2 separate regions of the Homo sapiens genome follow, and region 1 is linked to region 2. Evidence: fine-mapped expression QTL. A gene starts in region 2. The other region holds a variant in brackets. All regions are shown on one strand. Distances are from middle to middle. Region 1 overlaps SLC35F4 (solute carrier family 35 member F4). Region 2 holds the start of SLC35F4 (solute carrier family 35 member F4).

Region 1 (12,893 bases), 33 kb after region 2:
GTGGATACCAGATTCAGTACCCTGTTAGCCCATCAAAGGTCTGGTTCTAATCATGTGCCTATTCCAAGTACAGAGTCGTCTTTGTTTCCATTTAACCAAATTCTTTCTGTACTCTACTGTCAGTGAGTAGTTTGGGCTTTCTAAGAAAAAGTTGGATTTCCACTTAACCCACTTCCACAATCGCTATTTTAGTTTTCTGGTTCATACCTCTGGGACTGGTGCTTTGTCTTAATGTCCAACCTAGGTCTTCTTAGGAACTAGAGACCTGCCGATGAATCCAAACCCCTTTTGCCTGGTCTCTACTACCTACTACGAGATTTTCTGGATCACAACCTGCTCACCCTCTGGGCTCTTCCCCCATCACCTGGGGCTCAAAATCCCTTGATCTCCTGCTTAGCCCTATGTTCCAATTGGTGTCCAGGTATTAGCCATGCCCTGTACAGCTAGGCATTCATTGTGTACATGTTGCTGATAATTGATAATATGGCTTTCTACTTATTCTCCATTGCAAAATCTAGTCATAAACAAGATTGCTAGACTGTAGATGAGCTCCATGGGGATAAGGGGCTTGCTACTGTCAGTGTCTGAAAGAGTCAGCCCTCATTTTAAAAATTAAATGAAAAAGGAATAAATAAAATAGTGCCTCAGATGAGAGATTCTTAATCTAACAATATGTGCATAAATTGATGTGCACTTTTCTGAGGTGCTTCATAAGGTTCTTCAGATTTTCAGTGGTACTCATGGACCTCAAAACATTAATAACCATGGCTTAAAATGTATACGTAAGAAAGGAACATGTGATTTGCTCTTTTAAAAACATTCATTATTTGGGGGGGATATTTGGGTGTTATATAGCAGTGTATTGAGAAATATTGACACCAAAAATTAATTAGGTGGTCTTCAATCATGAGTGATAAGGTTTCTGTTTTGAAATTAATAATGAGGTGGTCTGATGGTTAACCTTTAGCTCTTTAAAATGAACGAGGATGAGAGGTACTCAGATTTTGAGAGCCTACACCCATGGGAATCAATGTCAAAGCCCGTTTCCTAGAAGTCTCATTTAAGTGTTTCCACAAGTATAGCTTGTACTTTTTTCCTTCTCCAGAAAACCTAATTTTCTGATAGTGAAATCTTTATCTTATTAAGTTGCTGGGTAACAAAGCTTGTTGTTCATTCTATTTTCAGCTACTTGGTATAGTCTCTATGACAAATTTAATCTATTGGAGCTCAAGTCAATATGCCATTACTTTAAAGTCTGTGAGTATTAGTTTATGCTATTTGTGACTGAGGGCACAATGCCTGGCATTAGGTGGCACTCAAATATTCAGAGAATTAATGGTTATCCTTTGTTTTGGATGGCAGTGTAGTGAAGTGGCTGTGAAAAGCATTTATTTTGAATCAATGTACTCTTGAGTTTGAATTCCAGCTCTTGTATCTAGCTTTATGACTTTGGAAATATGAATATTAAAAGTTCTCTCCTCCTTGGATTTTGCGAGAATTAAAACAGAAAATATGTGTAAAAAACATTAAGCACGGTGCCTGGGGACAGAGTAGGCACTCAATAAAATGTATGAATGTTATTATTATTAGTGTCATTATTAGATCACTCATCTGGATTGCTTGTAGAAGACTAGAATGAAGTGTGCATGTTTTGTTTAGGTCTTAGGTAAGAAGTCTGGGGCGTGTTTTGGACATGCTGTAGAGTGTTGATAAAGTTCTTAACTCTGGCTCTGCATCAGGATCTCCTGTGGAATATTTAAAAAATACAGATGCCTGGGCTCCAATTCAGGTCCCTGGAGCTGTGTCCTGAGCATGTACATTTTTTTCTGCAACTTTTTTTTTAAAGTTCAGGGTTACATGGGCAGGGTGTGCAGGTTTGTTACATAGGTAAACATGTGCCATGGTGGTTTGCTGCACCGATCCACCCATCACCTAGGTATTAAGCCTAGCCCCCATTAGCTATTCTTTCTGATGCTCTCCCTCTCTCCCCGCCTCCCTGAAAAGGCCCCAGTGTGTGTTTTTCCTCCCCACTCCCCGCTGCCCCTCATGTGTCCTTATGTTCTCATCATACAGCTCCTACTTACAAACGAGAACATTCAGTGTTTGGTTTTGTGTTCCTGTGTTAGTTTGCTGAGGATAACAGCTTCCAGCTCCATCTATGTCTCTGCAAAGGTCATGATCTCATTCCTTTTTACAGCTGCATAGTATTCCATAGTGTGTATATGTGTGCACATTTTTAAAAAGCTCCACAGGTGATTCTGATGCAGGCCGGGTCAAGAATCACTGCCATCAATATTACATAAAGAGCAACCGAAGGATAAGAAGTGAAGAAGGAGTGGAGTTTTCTAATATTTGACCTATCTTGGTGCTGAACAGGAACAGAGAAATATTGGTGAATAATGAACCTGGGCTTTGGAATCCAGAGTTTGAATTCAGCTAATTCACTTTCCTACTCTGTGGATACTAGATTTTAAGCCCCAGAGGTCAGGGGCCACATCTGTCTTTTGCATGTAGGTATCCCTAGACTGACATTAAATGACTTAACCTTAAGACCCCTGTGTCCTTATCTGAGAATTAATTTATATGACATATGGGTACCGGTATGGCAATATGAGCTCAACAAGTGGTTACTGTTTTTTTGTGTATGTACATATGGCATCCTCAAATATGGTCCCTACCTATTTTTTATTCATGCCATTCTCATGTGAATTCTCTATTCCAGCCATATGGACTGATTTACTAATCCTTGAAATAATCCTGTATTTTCCTGCCTTTTGCTTTACAAATATTCTTTACCTCTCTATATACACCTATAATCTCCCTGGCCCACAATGTAAAGTGATCATTCTTAAAAAAAAGTTCTTATAGTTGCATTTATGTTGGTACTTGATCATGGGCTATTTGGCACTTGATCACGTGCTACTTGTATCTTTTTTCCTATTTTGAGACTGAACTGTCATGTCTCTTATTGTTGTTGAGCTTTCCTTGCTTTTATATATATAGCTCCTCAGCTAGACTGTATTTAAACAAACATTGGACCTCAAAGGCAGAGACAGTACTAAATTATATTTCATGTAGCAAAGCTCAGTAAAGATGTGTTGATTTGGGAAAAAATGATTTGACTGTATATATTTTTTTGACTCCTTTTTCCTTCACAGGTTTTTGATCACAAAGTTTTTGTTGAAACTCAGACATACGTATTGCTGGCCCCTGACTAGAAGATAGTTTGAGCACATAGAATGTTTAGGGAACAAGCTATGATTTGGGAATTCTTAGGTTTTGAGAAGTAGGATATATTCTCCTTCTTTCCTGTTTGCCTTCTTGGGGATCTCCCATTTGCTCTTGAAGCCTCACCTCTGTTCTCCTCGCTTTTCCAAAACCTGCCCAGGAAGAGTGGGTTCTTTTTCCACCTGAGCTCATAGAACCTTTATTATGAAACATTGCTTTGTATCTCTTTGTTTATTCATTTATTTCTCCACTGGCCTCTGTGTTGCTAAGGACATTAATTTTGTCTTGGTCATCTTAGTATCACCGGCATTAAGCATAGTACTTTACCTATAGGAAGAACTGATTAACCACTGAATCAGTGTAAAAGCACGGGACTCATATTCAAGTTGTAGATACAAGATATGGCAAAAAGATGGTAACCATAAAACGGAAAAGCATGTCAAAAATGTGGTGCTTTCCCTGTATGAAAGGGGAGCCATGGAAGATATTTGAATGTATGTGTATTGGGGAAGGGGAGGTGAGCAGTATTCTGAAAAATGTCTTATTTTGGCATTTCTTGAAGAATTGGTAATTTATTCACAGAAAAGAGTGCTTATGAGGAAGGACGCTCTAGAACCTGGCACAAAAGCCCCTTTCTAGGGAAGATTGGCTTTGGAGAAGTGGGGGGTATCTTGGGTGACAGTGATGGTTCAAGAAATGATGGTATGATATGTGACGGTCATCAGGATGTGACATCAGTCACCTCATTGATAGCAAGGTTCTATTCAGCCGGGTTGGCTAGGTTAAGTCCCCTTCCTCTCCTATACGCACGTGTGGTCCCTATCCCAGAAGCTGTGAGATTGGTCAAAGCAAGTGGTCTTTCCAATTGGAGGAGGTCTACCCTTGGTCAAAGGCATGCGAGTCTGTATGCTCCCCTATTGGAGCACTAGGAGAACTACAGTATTTGAGCCAAACAAACTTTCAAGAAATTTGAAAGTGGCTCAGTAAGTTGTGGGACATACAGGTTGTCCGTTTCTCCATCATACCTCCCTTCTGCTCTTTTCGCTGCTAGAAAAATTCTTCGCAATTAGGAATTCCATCAAGCCCTAAATTCTTTGATGATTCCCTGTAACAGTGTCTCTTGAAGTGTGGGACAGATATTCCTGGTTAAATGCAAGATTTAGGTGGTACTCAGACATGGTGTTAAATAATTTTAAATTACACAGTGAAAAATTTATTTCATTTTAAGTTCCCTTTCAATCCTTCTCCTTCTGACAATGAGGATGTATAAGTGGAAGACCAGTGTAACATTTTCTAATCTCAGTTTTTAGTAAGGAGAAGAGCCTTCAAGCTAAGTGTTCCAATTACAAGCATATCATGCCATAATGTTAATAACATTTTCTTTTAAAAATTTGTGGCAAATTATTTCAGTTTTTAATATATGACAGTGATGTAAAATTTTAATGTTCTGGATGTAAGATGATATTTAGGAATTGTTATTAATTTTTTTAGGTGTGATGATGGCGTTATAGTCATTATCCTTTACAGATACAAATTATATATAGATGGAAAGATATAATGTCTGTGATCTGCTTAAAGTAATTCAGGAAGGGTGTGCTTGTGTGTGTGCTGATGGAGGTGGAGGTAGCGGTGGTGCTTAGGGGAGTACAAAGGAAACAAGATTGGTCATGGGCTGATATTTGCTGTGCTGAGTACATGTAGATTAATTATACTATTGTCTCTATTGTGTATATTTCAAAGTTTTCATAAGGAAATGTTTGAGTTAAAATAAAATTTCAGGCCGGCGCAGTGGCTCACACCTGTAATCCCAGCACTTTGGGAGGCTGAGGCAGGCGGATCACGAGCTTAGGAGATCGAGACCCTCTTGGTCAACATGGTGAAACCCCGTTTCTACTAAAAATACAAAAATTAGCTGGATGTGATGGCGCATGCCTGTAGTCCCAGCTACTCGGGAGGCTGAGGCAGGAGAATCACTTGAACCAGGGAGTCGGAGGTTGCAGTGAGCTGAGATCGCGCCACTGCACTCCAGCCTGGTGACAGCGAGACTCCATCTCAAATCAATCAATCAATCAATCAATAAAATAAAAAATAAAATTTCAATGTTAAATAAGTTGATTAATATGGAACAATAAGTGAGTTCAGAGAAAAACTATTAAGCAAATAAGAATAATATGGGTGGTATGTAGGTAAGTCATTAGTTAAACTACTGAAGTCTGCAAAACACTGGCTGCTGGAAAACATTCAAGCTTCTCATTGAGAAATCAAAGGTCCTTCCTGCTACAGGCCTTTCTCACCTCCTTTCTTGCCACTTTGGATTGCAATAATACCAGGTCACCGGTAGTTCCTAGTGTGCCATCCTCTCACAACCTGCATCTTGATGCAGATGGTTCTGTTTCTTGGAATGTTTCCCAAATGTGTTGTTTAGAAAATTCCTGCATTCTTTAACTCTCAGCCCAAACAATGGAAATTAAAAGAAAGGAACATTCTGAGAACTCTGAAAGAGCTGAAATCATTTGGAGACTAGACATGGCTTGATGCCAGAATAAGAAGGAGCCAAGGGTAACACTTAGGTTTTAACATGGCAACTTTGACAGACTAGCGAGGCTGGAAGGAGAGAGGTGTTCGTGGGTGATCAGTGCTAAATTAAATTTTAGGCATGTTGAGTTTGGCCTGTCCTCCAGGACTCCAAATTATTACTAGCAGCAGAAACTGGGCAGGGGTCATTCCTCTCCAGCCAACTCTTGAGTCCTCAGTAATTACATGACAGAAATGTTATAGAGTCCTTTTGCTCCTCTTTCTCTTTCTTGTCAGTCACATTTTGCGTATTGTTCTGCTGACAATGAGAAAGAGCAAAAGAAGGGAGAGGATGTGAAAAGCAAATCAGTCATTTGTTGCTTTTTAGGAGTGTTGAGAAAGTCTTGGGGGTTGGGAGAGTTAGAAACTGTTGATTTATGCAAATTTTTCCATTATGACTGACTTCTGATTATATTTCCCATCCACTGTTTTATCTGACTTCCAATTGTTGAGAAGTAGCTGTATTAATGTGGCTTCACCACAGCTTGTGAACTGCAAGGACTCACTGGAGACATACTATAGGACCTACTTGGACTCTGTATCCTTCCAAATGAGTTGGTGTCTGGTGAGGAGGAACAATATGATTACAGGATCTGAAGGAGATGGGAGGGGCCCTTTTCTTCAAGCACGGGTTGCCCCATGGGCACAGTGAATAACACTGGTTCTATTTTCATGTTTCTGTGGCAAACAGCAACTTCTGTATTGGTCTGTTAATACTTCAACCATTCTAGTTTGGTTATTTTTGTTTTGTTTTGTTTTGTTTTTGAGACAGAGTCTCCCTCTGTTACCCAGGCTGGAGTGCAGTGGTGCGATCTCGGCCCACTGCAATCTCTGCCTTCTGGGTTCAAGCAATTCTCCTGCCTCAGCCTCCTGAGTAGCTGAGATTACAGGCATGCACCACCATACCTAGTTAATTTTTGTAGTTTTAGTAGAGATGGGGTTTCGCCATGCTGGCCATGCTGGCCATGCTGGTCTCGAACTCCTGACCTCAGGTGATCCGCCTACCTCGGCCTCCTAAAGTGTTAGGATTACAGGCATGAGCCACTGTGCCCGGCCTATTTTGGTTCTCTGAGAAGCAATTTTTATACTGACATGCTGGATAGGAAGGATTTGATCTAAAAATAACATTGTTCTTTCATCATACTGGGACTTCCATTAAGTGAATGACGGTTTAGTTATACCATTGTCCTTTCTAACACCTGTCCTAATATCTCCCCTCCCTTCACTGGCAACAGAAATTAGGTACCAGTTCTACTGAGATGTTTTGCAATTGTCATCATTTTACTTTGTAAGCAAAAAGCATGTTTTTCTTTGTATTTCAAACTAAGGAATGCATGATTACCACTTTGGACCTCCTTGTGAGCATAAGATTTTACACTATTTGCACTGTAATAATTTATGACATTTTTATAGCTTACTGTTAGGGCTTGTACAAAGTAGAAGGAATGAATCTGTAGAGAAAAAAGAAAAAAATGAACACACCAATGTGCTGTAGTTATTCAGTGAAGTGCAAAATCTTGCAGGAGTTAGTTTTGTTTGAAACAGATTTTACTTCTCAGTACCCACTCTTTCTCAATTTTTACCAACTCAGTCCTTTTGGTGTTGACATTTTGTACTCTGGAGTTTTAAGATGTCATGCTTCATGACTTGTTCTCTGGGAAAGTGTTTCTTCTTGAAATGTC[G/A]GGTTGCTCTCATCTTAGGTGGAGTTTGGGGTCAGCCTTTGTTATTATTTTAATTTATAGACTTTTAATAATGAGGGTTGTTTCATTTGTGTTTCACTTAATTCAGCACAAGGTTTTGTAAATAGCCTCAGATTTATTTTAACATGTGAAGAGAGGGAACAAAAAGATTCCTATGGTAAAATTAAACATTTTCTCAAATTGAGGCTGTTGCTTGGTTTCTGTTCTTGTTAACGTGCATTTAAAAAATTATTTTCTGTGAAGCTAGTCTTCATAAAGGTGATTTGTGAATATATGAAAATGCAAGAGATGCACTAAAGTTGCAGTCTCCATGGTATATTTAAATATGCCAACAGCTACCCTAATGAGCAAATTTAGCATTTATCCAAATTGGAAAGCCAACGGGAGATTAGCTATGGCCATGGCTGGAGTCTGTATTCAAATATTCATTTGATATTGGTTGTAACTCCGGTGTATCCTCCTGATGTTGTGGATAGATTTATGCCTGTCAATTGAGGAGAGCATTTCTCACTCTCTGATATGCATCTGAGTCACCCAGGGGAGGTTTTTTGAAGTGAATGTCTCCCAGGCCTTGAGCCCCAGAGATTCTGAGTCAGTCATTCTGGGACAGAGCCCAGTCTTCTGTGTTTTGATTCATCAGAATCACCTGGGGAGCTTTTACAACATACCGATGGCTGGGCTCTATCCCAAAACACTGACTCAGATCCTCTGGGGGTGCAAAGCCTGGGTAATCTGTACTGATTTTCAGAAAAGAATGAAAATACCAAAATTATCTAGCAGAGATGGTCCTTTACAAGCATCATTTAATGTCACAGGATGTGCAGAGCTAGGGATAGGGTTAAGGTAATCTCATTAGGGACCGTGAAAGAATATGAGAATTCTGTCTGTCTTTAGTGAGATTGCCTTGCGATTAGATGATAACAAGGATGATGATGGTGACAATGACAACAACGTGACAGTAAGCTTTATACCAGTCATGCTTTTACTAGCTCTAAATAGAGAACTTTTGTTCTTGTTCTTTATGCATATGTGATTTTAGTTTGCCTAATTAATGTTATTTCAGGGACACCTGCTCTCGTGTTCCTACAATATTTATCATTAAAGAAATGAACAAATTCTCTAGCAATTATGAGGACTTGGAAAGAATAAAAGTACCCTGGGTCGTGTTGGCTAGGCTGACAGAAAATAATACCTGAAATATTTCACCACGTTTTCTCAAGGGCAAATTTACTGTAATGTGAAAAAATTTTTTATCAGTGAGTGTAATTTTACACATGAATTACAGTTCCAGCATTCTATTTTCAATTGCTATGTTTACTGCATCAGAAATGTATAGGGAATTTGTGTTCTCTTTTCCCTCATCTCATTTGTAGAGCCAGAACATGCAAAAATTGGAGTTGGTAAAAGTATTGTGCTAGGAAGATCAGGACTTTAGTTATCATTCTCTGTTTATTGTTTCTAATAAATTGTATTGTATATATTTGAGGTTTACAACACAATGTTATGGGATACATATAGATAGTAAAATAGTCCTGTCATAAAGCAAATTAACATGTCTATCATCTCACATAGTTACTTCTTTTTGTAACAAGAAAAGCTAAAATTTATTTATTAACAAAAATACAATATAATTTTCTTAACTATAGTCCTCATGTCATACATGAGATTCTAGGCTTGTTCATCCTACATATTCTTCTTCTATGTATTAATCTGTGACTTTGGACAAGCTACTTAAAGTCTTAGGGTCTTATTTTCCTCATGTATAAAGTGTTAATAATTTATCTGAAGGCAGGTGACTAGAGCAGTTAAACTCTTGAAGCCCATTCTGCTGCAAGTTCCTGTACTGAGTCTGCGGAAGGCAGAGGTGTGGCTAAGGCAACGTCAAGTGATGTGGGGTGGGCCGGGAGGGAGGGGCTTCAGAGCTCAGGAAGGCTGTATGTGCCTCCTAGCGTCCTTCAACCCTGGCCAACTTCTCCAATCTTGCTCCTGGTTGCTATGGTTTTTCCACATCTTCTGGTTTGTAGATTCATGAATTTATTAAATAATACGTGATAAAGCCTCAGTGGGACTCCTGAGTCATTTGTGAGGGATTAAAGACAATTTTACAGAGTTCTTTGCTGGCTTGGAGAGTTGCAGTGCTCAAAAACATGACTTGTGAAGACACGGATATACACTTATGATTAGGAAGCATTTTAGTAAAACATTCATGACTATTTCCTGCATTTCTATGGAAAAATAAATTCAATCACAGTAGGGTTTTTCACTTCATTGCTTATTAGAATGCATTCTTCTGCCTGGATAATATAAAGATAAAGTTAATGTTTCTTCTGTTTTGCAAAGGTGTTATTGGACCCACAAATATGCTCTGGTCTCTCAAGGAGAAAAAAGCTCCAAGGTTTTCACTCTTTAAATTACTGAAATAAAGGGAAATGATTACATGGTAATATTCCCTCTTGCTGCTTGAGAATTCCACAGAAAACAATAACACAGGATAGATTATTTACTGTGGCAGTTTGTGAAACATAGATTGCTGCTGTACTGCAAATTCTGCTTATCTCTTAAGAGCTGTCTGTACTGGGTGGCTTTAGTTTGTCCCTCCAGATTCACGCTTGGCCCTTCTCCACCCTCCTCTGTCCTGGGAGGCTATGCTGTATGCCTGCGTCTATCACTGTCTTGGTCAGCTTGGGCTGCTATCACAAAATACCAAAGATTCTGTGGCTTAAACATTGACATTTATTTCTCACAGTTCTGGAGGCTGGGAAGTCTAAGATCAAGGTGCCAACAAACTCTGTGTCTAGTGAGGGCCCTCTTTCCGGCTTGCAGAGGCTGCCTTCTCACTATATTCTCACATGGCAGGGAGAGAAAGATATTAGAGATACTGTGGAAGGAGAATGGTAGAACTTGGCATCTGTAAGAAGTCAGGAAAGGAATGGGAGGAATCGAAAATCACCTCCCTGCTCTGCTGGCCTGAGTGATTGGTGCAGAGTAATGGTGTAGAAACAGAAATGGGAACACAGTGAAGAAATCAGAGTTGAGAGAGAAGATGATAAATTCTGACAGAGCATGCATACCATGTCCCACCAGCATTCAAGAGCAGGGATGCATTCTATTTCATTTTTGCACCCCCAGTGCTTCAAATAAGTGCTGGTGTTCTCTATACAAGTGCTGTTGAACTTGCTCCACAGGTAGTCTGTGCAGAAATGGGCACTGTGTTCAGTTAGGGTGAATTTCTGATAAATTGGCTCTGGGTTTTTGATTTTGGGGTCACAGAGAAAGTGTAAAAAGAGTGTGTGATTCTTTGTCTTGCAACACCTCCAGCCATGGTCTGTTTTTGTAACCAGTGACAGCTTCCCTCCTCATAGATAAAGTTGGTATTTTACAGAATATATCAGGCATATACCATTTTCCCATTGAAGGTAGGTGGTCTGAAACTGAGATCTGAGCAGAGCCATCCAGAACCATATTGGCTCATTTAATTATGAGATTTTAAGTTATAGGCTTCATAAGTGAGTTTCCAATCACTTTGCTCTTTAAATTTTCAATCTTTCTCATGCTAGACTTCAGGTTTTCTAAGAAATATCTTTTAGGATTTCCATAGCATAACATAAAATTGGGTTGTAACTTCATATTTGGGGCATATTCTAAGTTACTCTTAGACTGTAAGAAGTATTTCTCTTGTCCGAAGCTAGGGAGATCCAAATAAAAATCTCCTCGGATATTATAAAGGAAGTGGTAGTTAACATACATTATTTCATTTAATCCTCACAGTGACTCAATGAGGTGGCATTACACCACATTTTCTCCGTTTTACAGATCACGAAACCAAGGATTACAGAGATTGATCAATTTGACCAAAACCACACAGTTGAAATGTTACAAAGCTGAAAAAAAGGCAACATATGTGAAGAGGAAATAATGCTACATAAACACTTTCTTTTGGAGTAGTATTTCTAGATTTTACTTCCATTACTTTTTTTTTGTAGGTAGCAGACAATGTATTGGAATATTTTTGTAAAGTTAAAAATTATATACTTTTTTCTACTCTTCAAAATTAAAACTGTAGAGGAATGGAAATAAGTTTTATTCTTGCTTATACACTCTCTTCTCTTTTCATTCCAATTTGCATTTAACTGCAAGATTATTCTTCCTGCTGTGTTTTTTCCATAAAGTCACTCTCCTGTTAAAAAACCATGAGTGATTTCCCATTGCTTATAAAATACAATTCAACTCCCCTATCTGGAGATTCTCAAATTTTTTCTTTTTTATATTCACGGCCTTCTTTGAAATATTGGAATTTTTATCTGCATGCCTGAAGGGATTAAAAGACTCAGAATCACACACAACCAGCCAGTGATCACTACCCACAACCCCTGTTGCAGTAGCGATTGGTCTCACAGCACCCAGGAAAGGAGCCACAGCTTGGCACCTTCATTCTTCTTGGCCTTTCTTCGGCATTGTGACACAGGTTGAGCCTGGTGCCAGGGCTGTGCTCTCCTGTGTACTTCAGAGGAAGCATCCTTTCAGGTTCCAGAGTGACACCATCTTTCCTGCAGACTTGGCCTGCCCTCTTGGTCACAGCGTTTTAGACCTGCTTTGTACAACTCTTTCAGCTTGTATTCTGTCACTGAGGGAACAATAGCTTTCCTCAGTGGTAGCAAACTATGTTTTTCTCATTAATAAAGTATGACAGCAGGGCACCTGTTTGAGAGTCACTTCCACAGGGAGCTGCTCCAGCTTTGAACTACATCTCTGCATAGTTCCCTTCCCCCACGACCCAGACCTATAGGCATTCTCTCTCCTGCCAGAGCGCTTCTGCTCACAGTGATCCCAGCTGCCTGGTTATCTTCTTCTACTGAAATCCTAACTACATTTCAAGATCTGGTTTAATTTTCATTTAATGACTTCTGCCCCTGGTGGTCCTGTTCTGAATGCCTCTAACATCATTTGTCTGTGTAGCTCATTTGGTGCTTGGATGTCAGAACCTTTGTGTGAACATCCCTGATTCAATAAAACTGCAATTAAAGGCAGGCCCAAATATTATATTTTGTACCTATTGCAGAACCTAATAAGCATGTGCATAGTGAATGCCCAGAAATCTAACTCCAAGGGCATTTAAAAGGAGGCATAGTGAGCATGGCTGTTTAAAAGCAATGAGTTGTGTAACATGGCTAAAAAGTGTCCCGTGGGTGAGCTTGGGCTATGGAGAAATTATTATTGTTGTTGCATAATATTATTCCATTTTCAAAATACCCTTGTGGAGCTCTGCTCACCTTTATTTCTAAGGCAGAATTGCTGAATCCTTCACCCCATGGCAGACCTCGGGTTGCCCAGAGTTTGCTGTTTTCTGAAAGAACAGTCCAACTCCTATCCTGGATCACCAGCCACGTGTGG
Region 2 (12,893 bases):
CCTTTTGAAACAGCTGAGGGAGGAGTAGTAGTAGTCAGATGAAGATGCATTTGTAGGGACTGTCCAAGCATGGATGTTCTTATCACTTGGCTCCACTGCATAGAAGCAAGTAATACTGATGTCCAAATAACTGTACTTAGAGCACTTTATTAGCTTAAGAATGTAAACATTTTAGGGCTACTTTGAGATTTTACAAAACTTTTTATGTGCTTGTTGTCATGGAGCCCTGTTTTATTATTTATGAGAACATGGAAAGACAGAAGAATTAGAGACCTTTAGTCAGGCTTCATCACATTCCATGGAAAGGAGATAATTGCGATTGCTAAAAAGATGGTGTGCAGGCAGGCGGCACACTCCAGCACATTGCACATAAAACAAGCCATGCTGGAGAATAAAGATCTGGGAAAGGGTTTCAGGGTTTGTCATGTGTGTGTGTGTGTGTGTTTGTATTCACTTTAATATTAGCAAATTATATTTCAGAACACTTGGAAAATGGAAGATTACTTATAATTTCACTCCTCTTATCACCATTTTTTGAATTTTGAGTATCTTAACTATTTTCCCCCTGCATTAAAAAATATGTAATTGTAGTAGACATCCGTATACAATCTAGAATTCTGATTTTTTTCACCACTTAATATTAGAACATAGGATTTTTCTCATCACTTTGTAGTCTTCATAGCAATAGCCATAATTTTAATATCTAAAGTGTATTCTACCCAATGGATACATTGTGATTTACTAAACCATTTTCCTATTTTTGGGACATTTGAGTTGATTACATTATTTTATTATTACCAGTGATGCTATGATGAATACCTGGGTGGCATAGGAATATGGAACTAGTAGAGACTTTAAATGTTACTTGAGGCTCTTTTCCCCCTTGGCGTTCAGAAGAGGACTTTGTTTTTTTCACAGCACAACTGGAGAGGTGCCAGCAAGATAGACTATAATGCAATTGACCCTTCGTGGGATAATGCTATGGGGTAGCCAGGGGGACATACGAAGTTCTGTTATACATTTATGGATTACAGGGGAGAATCAAACCCATAATTTCCACAATGGAAATATTTAACTTGAGGTTTATACAGCCCGTATCACTGAAACGGACAATGGAAAATGTGGCTGCAACTACTGTTACAGCTGCTGATATCCATTGCAGACATGGCCCAGGATTTCTCCACTTGGCTTCCCATTCAAAATTTGGAATGGATGCTGTGATTGGTGGAGCAGGGGTATGTGCCAGTGACCAAGTGAGGAGACTGGGAAAATTGGCATCTTAACCTGAGCTCTTCAGAAAAGAGAGCCTGAGGCAGAGGCAGGGTTTTATGTACTGGTGTATACATATGAGGGCATGTGACTGAGCTGACCATAGTTTAGCATGAAGACTGAGCAGTCTGACTAGTTGCACGATCTTGTGGGCAAGAGGCTGCAAAAGTGACAGCTTCTCAGGGAAGTCCATTCAGAATGGAATGGAGAATTTATACCCTAGCTCCTGTTTCCCATTGTCACAGGTTTGCCCAGTGTTACATCTGTCCCCTGCACTTTCAGGTTGTACGTGCTTGAGCCAAGCAAATGCATTTTCATGTCTCAGCACCAACAAGGAAATGCTGGTGCAGGAGGTTAGAGGTGCCCAGCATTGGCATGAGGTGAGGTGCTGTCAGGCTGTGTCTAGGTGAATCAATGACAATCCATACAGGGTGGTCACTGCAAAGGTGAGACAAAAGAAAATGAATTGGAGCATAAAAGTTATTTGGTGCGATCTTTTTAGCTTCTCTCTTGAAATGTATGCTCTTTCTGTCAGGAGCCTCCTCTCACATCAGCTGGGTACTAAAAAAAAAAAAGGATGAATGTCCACTTTGGTACCTCTGTATTATTTCAGGGCATTTAAAAAGCAAGTTCTACTGATGGGAATCACAGATACTGAAAATAATGATGAAATAAAACCTTGTGAATATATTTCCTGCAGATTAATAGTTCTTGAAATTAAAGACAAAGTCATTTCTGAAATTGCTTTTGGCAATAGTACTCATTCAAGATGTGGATGTATTGAACGTGTATTCTGGAGTCTGTGTTTTATGGATGCATTCTAACGAGTTTCAAATTTTGTGTTCTCTCTGGTTCTCTGTGCCACTCATAATGTTTCTTTCCAACAATTTGTTTTGTCTTCTCTATGATTTGTTGATGAATTGCTTCAAGAACTAGTGATCTTAGACATACATAGTATGTCTTTGGAAAACAAAGGACGAAGAGAATAGAACTTGAAAATTAAATGCAGTATTTATGGAAGGAATTAAAACTCTTCAATTACAGTTTTTAGTAACTTTACTTTGTATGTATCAGAGTCATCCTGAATGCTGATGGTCATGGGGCCAGAGGGAAAAAGAGAAAACCCTTGAGTGTCTAGTATTAGCTCTGACTGAGATGATAATTGCTTTTTTGTTCACAACCAGAATTAGTCACACAGCCCCACTACAACCACAAGGGGGCAGGAAGTGCAGTCCTGTGGTATGCCTAAAATGGGGGAGAACCATGACTATTTGGCAAACAGTAACAATGACTACCACAGCAGGGTTGGCATTTTTAGCAGTTAATGTTACAGAAAGCTTGTGTGACAAGTAATATGCAGCAGGTTTGAGGCTGTGGTGTGCATGGCATTTTTAGACGTTTAAATTACAGAAAGGCTTATTTGTAAAATGAATATGTAGCAGGTTTGAATGTATAACCACCAACACAGCTGTTCAAAAGGGTTTAAAAAAATCTTTATTTGCTTTAAATTACTGTAAATCTTACTCTGAGTCCCTATTCCTCATAAAAATAGTGGGAAATGCAATCTCAGTCTTGTTGGGGCTCCCCTGCTGCAGAGTTATGCAGTCAGGGGAGATCTTTGGCTTAGCTCAGCATCAAGGAGGTCTGATCTTCAGTCCACTGGGCACTGCTGAAATGTGCAATAGTCAAGCCCACATGTGATCCCTCTGGGGCTGGGGACTCTGCTGCTTCTGGACAAGCTGGGAGGCACCAGAATATCTGCTGAAGCTGGGAAGCCTAATGGCTAATGGGCCTGCCTCCCATGGGGCATCACACTATGATCCCTCTGAGGCTGCTCCACTTCACCAAGCAGGACCTGAGTGCCTCCCACACCTGGGGATTAACAGCCTCGGTCCCTTTCCTAGTATGAAGTAAACTCTTCCTGTGCTCATGCTTCCTTAAAGGACAAGAAGAGCTGCTGATCTTGAGCAGCTTCTCTTTCTGCAAAGCACTGAACTTCTGAAGCCACTTATTCCATTGGCACACAAGGTCTGCCTCACGTGATCATTACCCATGGTTGAAAGAATTAAAGGAGACCTGTAAAAGCAATTGCCACAGTGAAGCTCCAAGAGTGTGAATGGAGAGTGAAAGTGTAAATCAACTTCAGTAAAAAACAATGGACAGAGCAGGGGCAGGGCTAGGAGAAGAAAATTAATATTTATTGTGTACCCACGATGTGCCAGGCCTTCGTAAAATATTTTAATATGTGATCTCACTTAACCATCACAGCAATACTATGAAATAGAGAGTATGAGCCCATTTTACAGAGGAGGAAACTGAAGCTCAAAGCGTTCTATGTCTGCATAAAAATAGTACTGATAGCTAATATATATGATGCTTACTATATGCCAGTCACAGTTATAAGATCTTTATGGGTATAAACTCATTTATTTCTCATGATAGTTCCACTATATAGGTGTATATTTCTATTTTAGAGATGAGAAAATTGAGTCATAGAGATTTCAAAAGATTTACCCAAGGTCACGCAGCTAGAAAATGATGAGGTCAGAAATGACTCCTGGCAGTCTGCTCCAAAGTCCGTGCTTTAAACCACTGTGCTGTACTGCCGAGTACAGTATAATGCTGTAGGGAGAAGGAGAAAGAGAAAGACAGAGACAGAGAGAAACATACAGAGAGATAGACAGACACACACAGACTCAGAGAGACAAAGACAGAAAAACAGACCGAGAGAGAGGGAGACACAGGGAGAGACACAGACACACACACACACACACACACACACACACACAGATCATAGACAAATTCTAAAATTTGAATATATATGTTGAAATTACTTAAGACTTTCTCCAAAGAGGTTCAGTGCCTTTCCAAAGAGTTGAGCCTCAAAATTAGTCCTGGGATGCAGCCTGGCACCTGAGGCCAATGAAGAGTGGACTCTGCCCTGTCTTCTCATACAGACACCCAGCCCCTTTGAGCTGAAAGGTAAATTAGCAATGTCTGCCATTGCCTACTATTGAAACAGAAAGGCTGTGTCAGCATTCCAAATGGGGTGGCTGATGACTTGGCAGTTAAATACTCAAAACAACTTCCCTGAAAATGGAATATTAAGAGCATGCTTTTTCTTTCTCAGGTGCCATTTCTTATCACCTGGTTGGCTAGAAGCCAGATGCTTTTAAACACTAACACTGTTTAAATTTCTTGGGGTCAACTCTTTGTAAACAGTGCTGGTGTTTGTACAAAGTAACATTGGCCCTTGACTATAAAAGCTTAAAGATTCTTGGCTTTCCAAGCAGCCAAGTTACTTTTAGCCCAAGGAGATAGGTAAAATATACTAATTTCCCAGAGGGGAAAAAGATCATTTCCCCTTCTTTCAGCATCTTTCAGTGGTAACTTCAAATAGGTGAATAGAAAGATTAGGTGTCTTATTCCTGCCATAAAAAGACGACTAAAGCCCAGATTTTCTGATCCCTTTCTGCTAATTAAAGTACAGAAGACTAGATTCCATGGATTTTATTTTACTAACCCTTCCAAAGTGTATAGACTGATATGGTATTTTCAGACTGCTTATCTTTGAATAAAATTTATACCCAGTGATCATATTTAGTTTTAATGTTATTACTTGGTATAGCTATTCTAGCATCAGACACAAGGACTGTAAGTGATCATCCCATGAACTACTTTACAAATGATTTGGCTTTTTTTAAAAAAAAAAAAAACCACAACACGTGAATACCTAATTGTATACTCAATTAGTATAAATAGCTAATCTGATTTGATCAGATGATCAAAATCCATATGGCTCATATATCAAAACTCATCTGGGATCACAGATAGATACCCTCTGCTTGATGCATTAAAAAATTCCTGAAGAGCGCACAAAAAACAAATTTTGTTTTATAACAAATCGAATTATAATTTACAACTACTAGAGAAACTGGCTATGTGAAGGGCTATCATGATAAACTATTTTATGAATCAAATAATGACCTTCAATCTTCATTTATTAAGTTGTGTCTTTTCTTTATTCTTTCAGAATAGATTTGAGGCATACATTGCAACTCATAGTTTGTAAATTTGAATATTTGGGTTTGTGAAAACTGGTAGACTAAACATGCAAACATAAAAATGCTTTAAAAGTTATCCTTCCTTCCGCCGGGCACGGTGGCTCATGCCTGTAGTCCCAGCACTTTGGTGAATCACCTGAGGTCAGGAGTTCGAGACCAGTCTGGCCAACATGGTGAAACCCCATCTCTACTAAAAATACAAAAAAATTAGCTGGGCGTGGTGTCGGGTGCCTGTAGTCCTAATTACTCCGGAGGCTGAGGCATGAGAATCACTTGAACCCGGGAGGCGGAGGTTGCAGTGAGCCGAGATTGCACCATTGCACTCCAGCCTGGGTGACAGAGTGAGACTTTGTCTCAAAAAAAAAAAAAAATTATCCTTTCTTCAAAATAATTTCTGTAAATTGTTAATAACGTCTAAAATGACTATTGAAAGATTAAAACATCTTTTATCATATATGCCAAGAGTGTTCATGACTAGCAGAAATTTACCTTTGACTGTTTATCAATTTATAATTGTAGGATTTCAGTTCCTTCCATTAAAAGTGTGGCCTAGATTATAGCACTTGCTGGCATTTACTATTTTGGTCATCCTATTACAGATGATTATAGAGAGATTTGTAAGTGCTTTGCTATTTTAAAATTTATTTCCAGGTCAGTCTGAAAATTTTTACTTTTTCAAAAGAAAACATAGACTCTTGCGGGTATGTTTACATTGTAGTATTTAAATTTATGCTGAATTTACTGTTTATATGAATGATCAGATCCAGTTAAATACATTTTTATCTACTTCTATGGAGATTTATGAAAATAAAGCAAAAGCAGGAAGAAGGTAATGACTTACACGGTAATTGTTATTTATAATTTAAGTACATTAATTATGGCAAGATAAGTTATAAGCAATGGGAAAAACCACTTGTTTTTAAGTCTGCATATGTGTGTGTGTATGTATGTGTATACATATATATTCCTGTTACATCAGAAGGTTTTTGCTTGAATTGTTTCCTAATTTCTCTCTTACTGATATATATATTAATGTGCTATGGATTATGATGGCTATTATCAAAATATATAATATATGTAATATTGGAAAATTTATCTTTCATAGAAACTTCAAACAAAAGTGACATTTAAAATTATATGTGATGAACACATTTTACCATGTGCAATACATGCATTTGATATAATTTTGCCACAGAAATAATAAAACTAACAAAAGTGTGCTGAATATTATTTCACGTGGGGGGGGGTGTAAAGGCATAACGCTTTCATTTTTGCTTTATATGGCTAGCTCCCCATCACTGCACTAGTGTTGGTTTTTCCTTTTAGTTCCTTTTGACCTTTTAGCTCTTTCCACCCTTCCATCTTTCCTAGCCCAGAAAACAGGTGTAGGAGGAAATTGGTTTCTTTATGAACTCTCCTTCCAGCCACAATAATCTCAGATTGACTCCACTCTCAAGATCCCGTGCTAAGCTTTGTGTTTGGATGAAAACCCAAAACATATTGTAAAATTTAATATTGCGTTTTCATATGCTTAAACCTAATTTACCTTTTAGAAAAAAAATTTGCATATTTCTTCCTTCTTAAGGGCCCACACACAATGTGGAAAATGCTTGGAGGCAGGATGGTGTGATAGGTTCTCTGGAGGTTTCTGAGAGGGGCATTGAAGTCGACTTTTGTTTCTCTTTTTTTCTTCTCCCTAAGCTTTAGTAATATGAAACCTGGCAGGGATGTCTTAAGCCAGCTCTGCACGGAAGGTGGACCTAAATTGCCTCTAAGCTGATGAGCTGACCCTCCCCTCCACTAACCCTCCACCTCCACCTTTTCATTTCTGAGATGAAACTTTGAAAATTATTATTATTATTATTATTATTATTATTATTATTATTATTATTTGCAGGAAGCTGTGTCTGCAGACTATGAACAGAGGAATCGTCTCCACTGCTCACTGACCCTAACCCATTGGGTCTCTGGCTAAAGCAGAAGAGTCCCACACCTGAGGGGAGGGTGTTCGCTCTGAACACACAGCTTCAAGGATGTTCTGCTCTAATGGAAAGGCTCTAGACTGTAGCTAAGACTTTCACTCGTCCAGATATTTACAGTTTGAAGGACTTCCCTCCTGATATTTTTGGCAATAAAGGAGAAAATCATTTCTCCTCAGAGCATTTGAAATTGGAAAAATAAACGTGCTGTGTGCAGCTGAATCTTCTAAGCCTTTGACATTTTTCAGTGGCAGGATGGAGGGTCCGTATGGACAGTCAGACTTGAGCGCTTGAACACTTACAGTCTTTGCGTCTGCAAAACCTGGATAATCACTCCATATACCACCTGCCGGGAACTAATTTTCTTGTCATTTCATAAAAAAAGATTCCCAGTCTTCTAGACAAGTTGCAAGGACTGACTAACGCGGGGGAATGCTTGCATATCAGCAGACCAGAGGTGGTGTAGACGCCAAGCGTGGACCGAGTCCCGGGGCGCCCCAGAAGTGTCTTCTCCCCGAGCGACAGAGTTAATGCCTCGCATTAACAGCTATGAGTCCCTCTTGGGTTTCTCCCACTCCCAACACCCTTCTCTGAGCCCCTGGCCACCGTCGCCTTCTCCTCTCGCGCCCCACTGACCAAACATCCCTTTCATCAGGTGGGGTTGGGGTGTCTAGTTTTCGGGAAGGATCGCGCAAGGGTTAATGATGAAAGCTGGCGACCAGGTGGGGCGCCCACACCCGCCCCCGGCCACGGTGGGCGTCGGAGGTGAGGGGGCGCTATTCGGGCAGCAGTGCTCCGGGTGGCGCGCGGGAGAGCTGCCAGGCTGACGGAGAGGCCGGCCCGAGTGGGGGCCGCTCCGCCGCCGCCGCCGCCGCCGCCGCTGTGATGCGGAGCCGGTGCTGCGCCGGGCGGTGGAGTCAGAGCCCGGGCGCGGGAGCAGGAGCTGCAAGATCAGCACCAGCGGCTCCGGCACCTGCACCAGCTCCCGGGCCCCGCGCTGCGCTCTCCGCCCCGCCGCACTCGGGGCCGTCGCCCCGCGCTCTCTATGGATGTCAAGGCGGCCCCCAACGGGGTGGCCACTATCGAGGACCGGATCCTGCGGATCACCGGCTACTATGGCTATTATCCAGGTTACTCCAGCCAGAAAAGTAAGACGCCGCGCGGCTGCCCTGCGCGAGGCGGGGAAGGGAGGTGGGCGCGCAGGGGTGCCGCGGGGATGCGGACGGGCGGGCGCGCGGTACGGACACCTGCAGCCCTGCGGACGCTGTCAACACCGCCTTCCTGGCGGCGGGGACCCCCCGGGGAGAAAAGTATGTCCGCTGTCCTCGGTGCTGAACCGTGAGAGGGCAAGGGGCCCGGCTGGGTGCGCCCAGGAGTTTGGAAACAGTCGTAGCCTTGGGGGGAGGTGCGGAGGGGACCTGGTGAGCGCTCCTGACCGCCGTTGGCCGGCTCACCCTGGTGGATTTACGCCCGGAGGAGGCTAACATGGCTGTTCACTTAGCGGAAAGTCAGCCCTAGGGGATACATGCCCCGAAAGCCCCTACTGCGTGCGGGGCGCTGGGGACGCAGGCTGGGGAGGCTCGGGGGTGGGGCTGGCGGGGGCGGCCGACCCAGACGTGGGTCCCGGCGCTGGTGGGGTCAGCTCGTTCACTCCGGGCTGTTGAGACGCTGCCAGCGCGGGAGTTACTCCGGTTACAGTATCTTTAGGAGGTTCTTCACCCTGGGAAGAGAAAAGAACCTGCTCAGGTCTCCGAGCCCCAGAGCTTGGAGCCAGAGACCCGTGCAAAAGACTGGGGGCGTGGGGGGGGGGGGTCTGAGAAGGGGAGGCGACAGGGCCACCCGCCCCCGCCGCACGTCGCGGTCACCGCTTTCTTCCAGCTAAGCGAGGTCATGCGGCGTGGATGCTTTCACGTTTTTGGACCAGTTTTGGTGGGAGGGCGATGAGGTGTGCTCTGCTCGCAGTCCCCCTCCCCCAGTACACAAACCCACTAGCTATATTTGCTGGGATTAGTTCTACTGGCGACTGAAGTGCAGCTCATTTTTCTTCGAATTGGAGGAGTAGCTGCGGTTTAGTTTCTATGCAGGTGGGCTTTCGCTTTTTTCTTTATCAATGCATTTCTGTTGCAACAGATGAAGCTTAATTGATGTTTTTGCCGTTATTGTTGTCAGAAGCTTGGAAGCTCCTAGATGCATTTCTGATACGTATTTTTCTATGACATTTGGGGTGCAATCAACATTACAGTTTCTGTGATGCGTGGGACCCACAAAAATTCCGGCACAAAGACAAGAAAACACTATTTTTTCATGTAACTTTCTCCCCTACCATGCTTCCTCTCTATTGAATAATAATTCAAGAGCTTTGTTCCATGGGCTGTTCTCACACAGATATTTTCTAGTTCGATATTTCATCTGGTTTCAGGAAAGGCCTATCTGATTTGGATGGTTTCTGTCTAGCTGTTTTTAGCATTAGGGGCTTAAATTATTCATTTTCCATACAAAAGTAATTATATAGTGTTAGAATTTTCTGGAAAGAAAATAACACACTGTGGAATGCCCTTTGAAGTACTATACACTCAAAAACTTCTCCTTTTTTATTGGCAAAGGATTTCTTTTTTAACCCTGGAAACATAAGTAAAGGAACTAATATATCTTGTGGAAATTACTTGACTTTCACCTTTGAATATTTTAATTAGGAACCATGGGATTTTAGTGGCTTAGAGAATGTAGAAGCTGTGTGTGAAATTACAAGACTCAGGGTGGTTTATTATTGTAATTTTTATGACAATGGAACTTTGGCTAACAATGAACAACCCAAAAAGAATACTGAAAAAGTGACATTTTAGATAAGAACATGTTCATATTATATTTTTGTACTTGCTCAAATAGCTGCACATGCTTCATTTGCAACACAATAACAGGACAAAAAAAGGGAAGAGCACTGGCCAAGGCTATAACTGGTAGCCAAAAGGGATAAAGATTAACTTGGCATGGTTATTTGTGATGGGCACTTACCTACCTAAGTTCAGACCGTAGAGTTAAAAGAGTGAAGGCAGAGAATCTCACAAGAAGAGAGAATTAAGTGATAGTCAGATAAATCTCAGGATGCTCATGCTTTCGGAAGTAGAGAAAGATTGCTATTTTGCACAGTGAGAGATTGAGAGAGGAGAAAGCTGGAGGAGGGCCAGGGAACCGAGCACCATGAAATAATCCTGTCCTAATGCAGGCTTCAACTAGTAAACAAACACACTGAAGCAAACCAGTACAATATGGTCAATTGATTTGGCTGTTACAGGGAATGAGCAACAGCTTAGGGGAAGTCTGGAAAAATATACTTAAGAAAAGGCTACAGTGATGAATATATAATATGTGAAAGCAAGGTGACTTTCTCATTTCCTGTCTGATCACATATGAAGGACAATCTCTAGATATCTATGCCATTTACCTTTTTGGAGATAGACGGGGACTTACCTCTAAGAAAATGCACTGAAGATCAAGCCTTCTGTTAATGCATCCTGCTGTTTGCTTGTACCTTGTTCAGAAAAAATTCTAGTAGTCAGGCTGATGCAAAAAAAGAAACATGATAGAATTCAGATAAATGAAGGTACTTTAATGGGCAATAGGGCATTTGTTTTATTTATCCTGTTCAATTAATGAACAGTTATTGAGTAAATATAAATAAGAAATCTGGATACAAAGATGATTAAAGGTGGGTGCAGTGGCTCATGTCTGTAATCCTAGCACTTTGGGAGGCCAAGGCAGGAGGATTGCTTGAGGCCGGGAGTTCAAGACCAACTTGACCAATGTAGTGAGACACTGTTTCTATATTTATTTAAACATTTTTTTTAAAAAAGATGATTAATGCATAGTGTGGTTACTTAGGTAGGGAATAGATTCATTCATTCAACAAGTGTTAATTGAGCACCTCCTATGTGTCAGGAGTACACCAATGAGCAAAACAGACAAAAGTATTTTCCTTTTAAGAACTTAAGTTCTAGTGGGAGCAAACAAGACAATAAAGAAATAAACAAGTACATAAATTATTTAGTATGTTTCAAGGTGATAAGTGCCTTTTGAAAAATTACAACAGGATAAAAAGGATAAAATATTCTGGGGGTAGAAATTATCACAATTTTAAATAGGCTCATCAGGGAAGTCCTCACTGAGGAAGTAACAATTCAGCAAAGACCTGAAGGATATGAGGGAGTTAGCCATATGGACATCCAGAAGAACACATTCTGGGCAGTGGGAATAGCTAGCGCAAAGATCTGAGGTAGAGTACAACTAGCATGCTGGAGAAACAGCAGGGAGGCCTGTATGGCTGAAGTGGAGTGAACAATTGGGAAAGTGGTTGGAGATGAGGTCACTGAGGATCCAGGAGTGCAGATAAAGGAGGGCCTTAGAGGTCATTGTCAATCCTTTGGCTTGTATTCTGAATGAAATGAGCATTTGAAGAGTTTTGGGAGAAGAGTGATGTGACTTATCTTACACAAAGATCAGTCTCACTGCTGTACTGGGACAGGGTGAAAACACCTAATTAGTATGTTATTGTGATAACGTAGGTGAGACATGATGGTGGCTTGAACCAGAGTTGTAGCACTAGAAGAAGAGAAAGGTGGTCAGAGTCTGCATATATTTGAAATTAGAGCCAATAGGGTACCCTGATAGATTGGATATGGTATCTGTAAGAAAGATAGGAGTAAAAAATGACTGCATCTTTTCTGGTTTGACTAAGTTTGAGTTGCCATCAGCTGAAGTGTGGAAGGTTTCAAGGTAGAGAAACTTTGGAAAGGGGTGGGGGGTGGATTGTCAGGGGATAAGGATAACGTTTTAGAGATACTAAATGTAATTGGAGATGTAGAGTAAGCTTAGAGTTCAGAGTAGATGTCTGATTGGAGATATAAATTAAGGATTTGCCAGTACTTGGGTGGTATTTAAGGCCTAAGACTGGATGAGACCTCCAAGGAATGAATGCATATAGAGAAGAGAAGAGGCAGAAGAATTGAATTTTGAGACATTCTGACATTAAGAGGTTCAGGAGAAGAAGAAAACCATCAAAGGAGATCAAGAAGGAGCATCCAGGGAGATAGGAGGAAAACCAGGAACATGTGTTACCCTGGAAGCCAGTAAATAAAGAGTTTGAAGGGGAAGAGTTTAGCTGAGTCCAATGCTATTGAAAGGTCAAGTAAAAAGAAGACCGATTGAATTTGACAATTAAAGGTCATGGGTGATCTTGACAAGAATGTTGACAAGAGCACATAAGGATAGATAAAATGGATTAGAATGTGTATAAGAGAGAATTAGAGGGAAGAATTGGAAACTGTGAGTATAGATGACTCTGCAAGGATTTTTGTGCAAAGGGGAGCAGAAGAAATGGAGGAAGCAGGCTCAAGAAAGTTTTTCTTTCTTTAAAGATTGGAGAAATAAGAGCAAGTCTGCATGCAAATGAGAATGATTCAATAGAGAAAGAAAAATTAATGAAGTTGGAGAGATAGTGTATGGAAACTAGTACACAAGAGAAGGGACATTGCCTTAGATAGGAACATGGATATAGGGTAAGGTGTGTGGGGCCCGTTTGGGAAAG

What was found. PIP is the estimated chance that this variant, and not a neighbour inherited with it, causes the effect.
Region 1: its variant is fine-mapped to the expression of SLC35F4 in thyroid (GTEx, PIP above 0.99).

Annotation. Positions count from the first base shown.
Region 1 is chr14:57,828,703-57,841,595 of GRCh38, reverse strand. All of the region lies in intron 1 of SLC35F4 (solute carrier family 35 member F4), which reads left to right. It also overlaps the pseudogene RN7SKP99. Among named protein-coding and RNA genes, the nearest start is that of SLC35F4, 31 kb to the left of the region's middle. The variant G/A (reference allele first, on the strand shown) is at 7,485.
Region 2 is chr14:57,861,290-57,874,182 of GRCh38, reverse strand. It overlaps SLC35F4 (solute carrier family 35 member F4), which reads left to right and starts at 8,091. Exons shown (of 8, transcript NM_001306087.2): 1 at 8,091-8,460. The coding sequence starts at 8,358.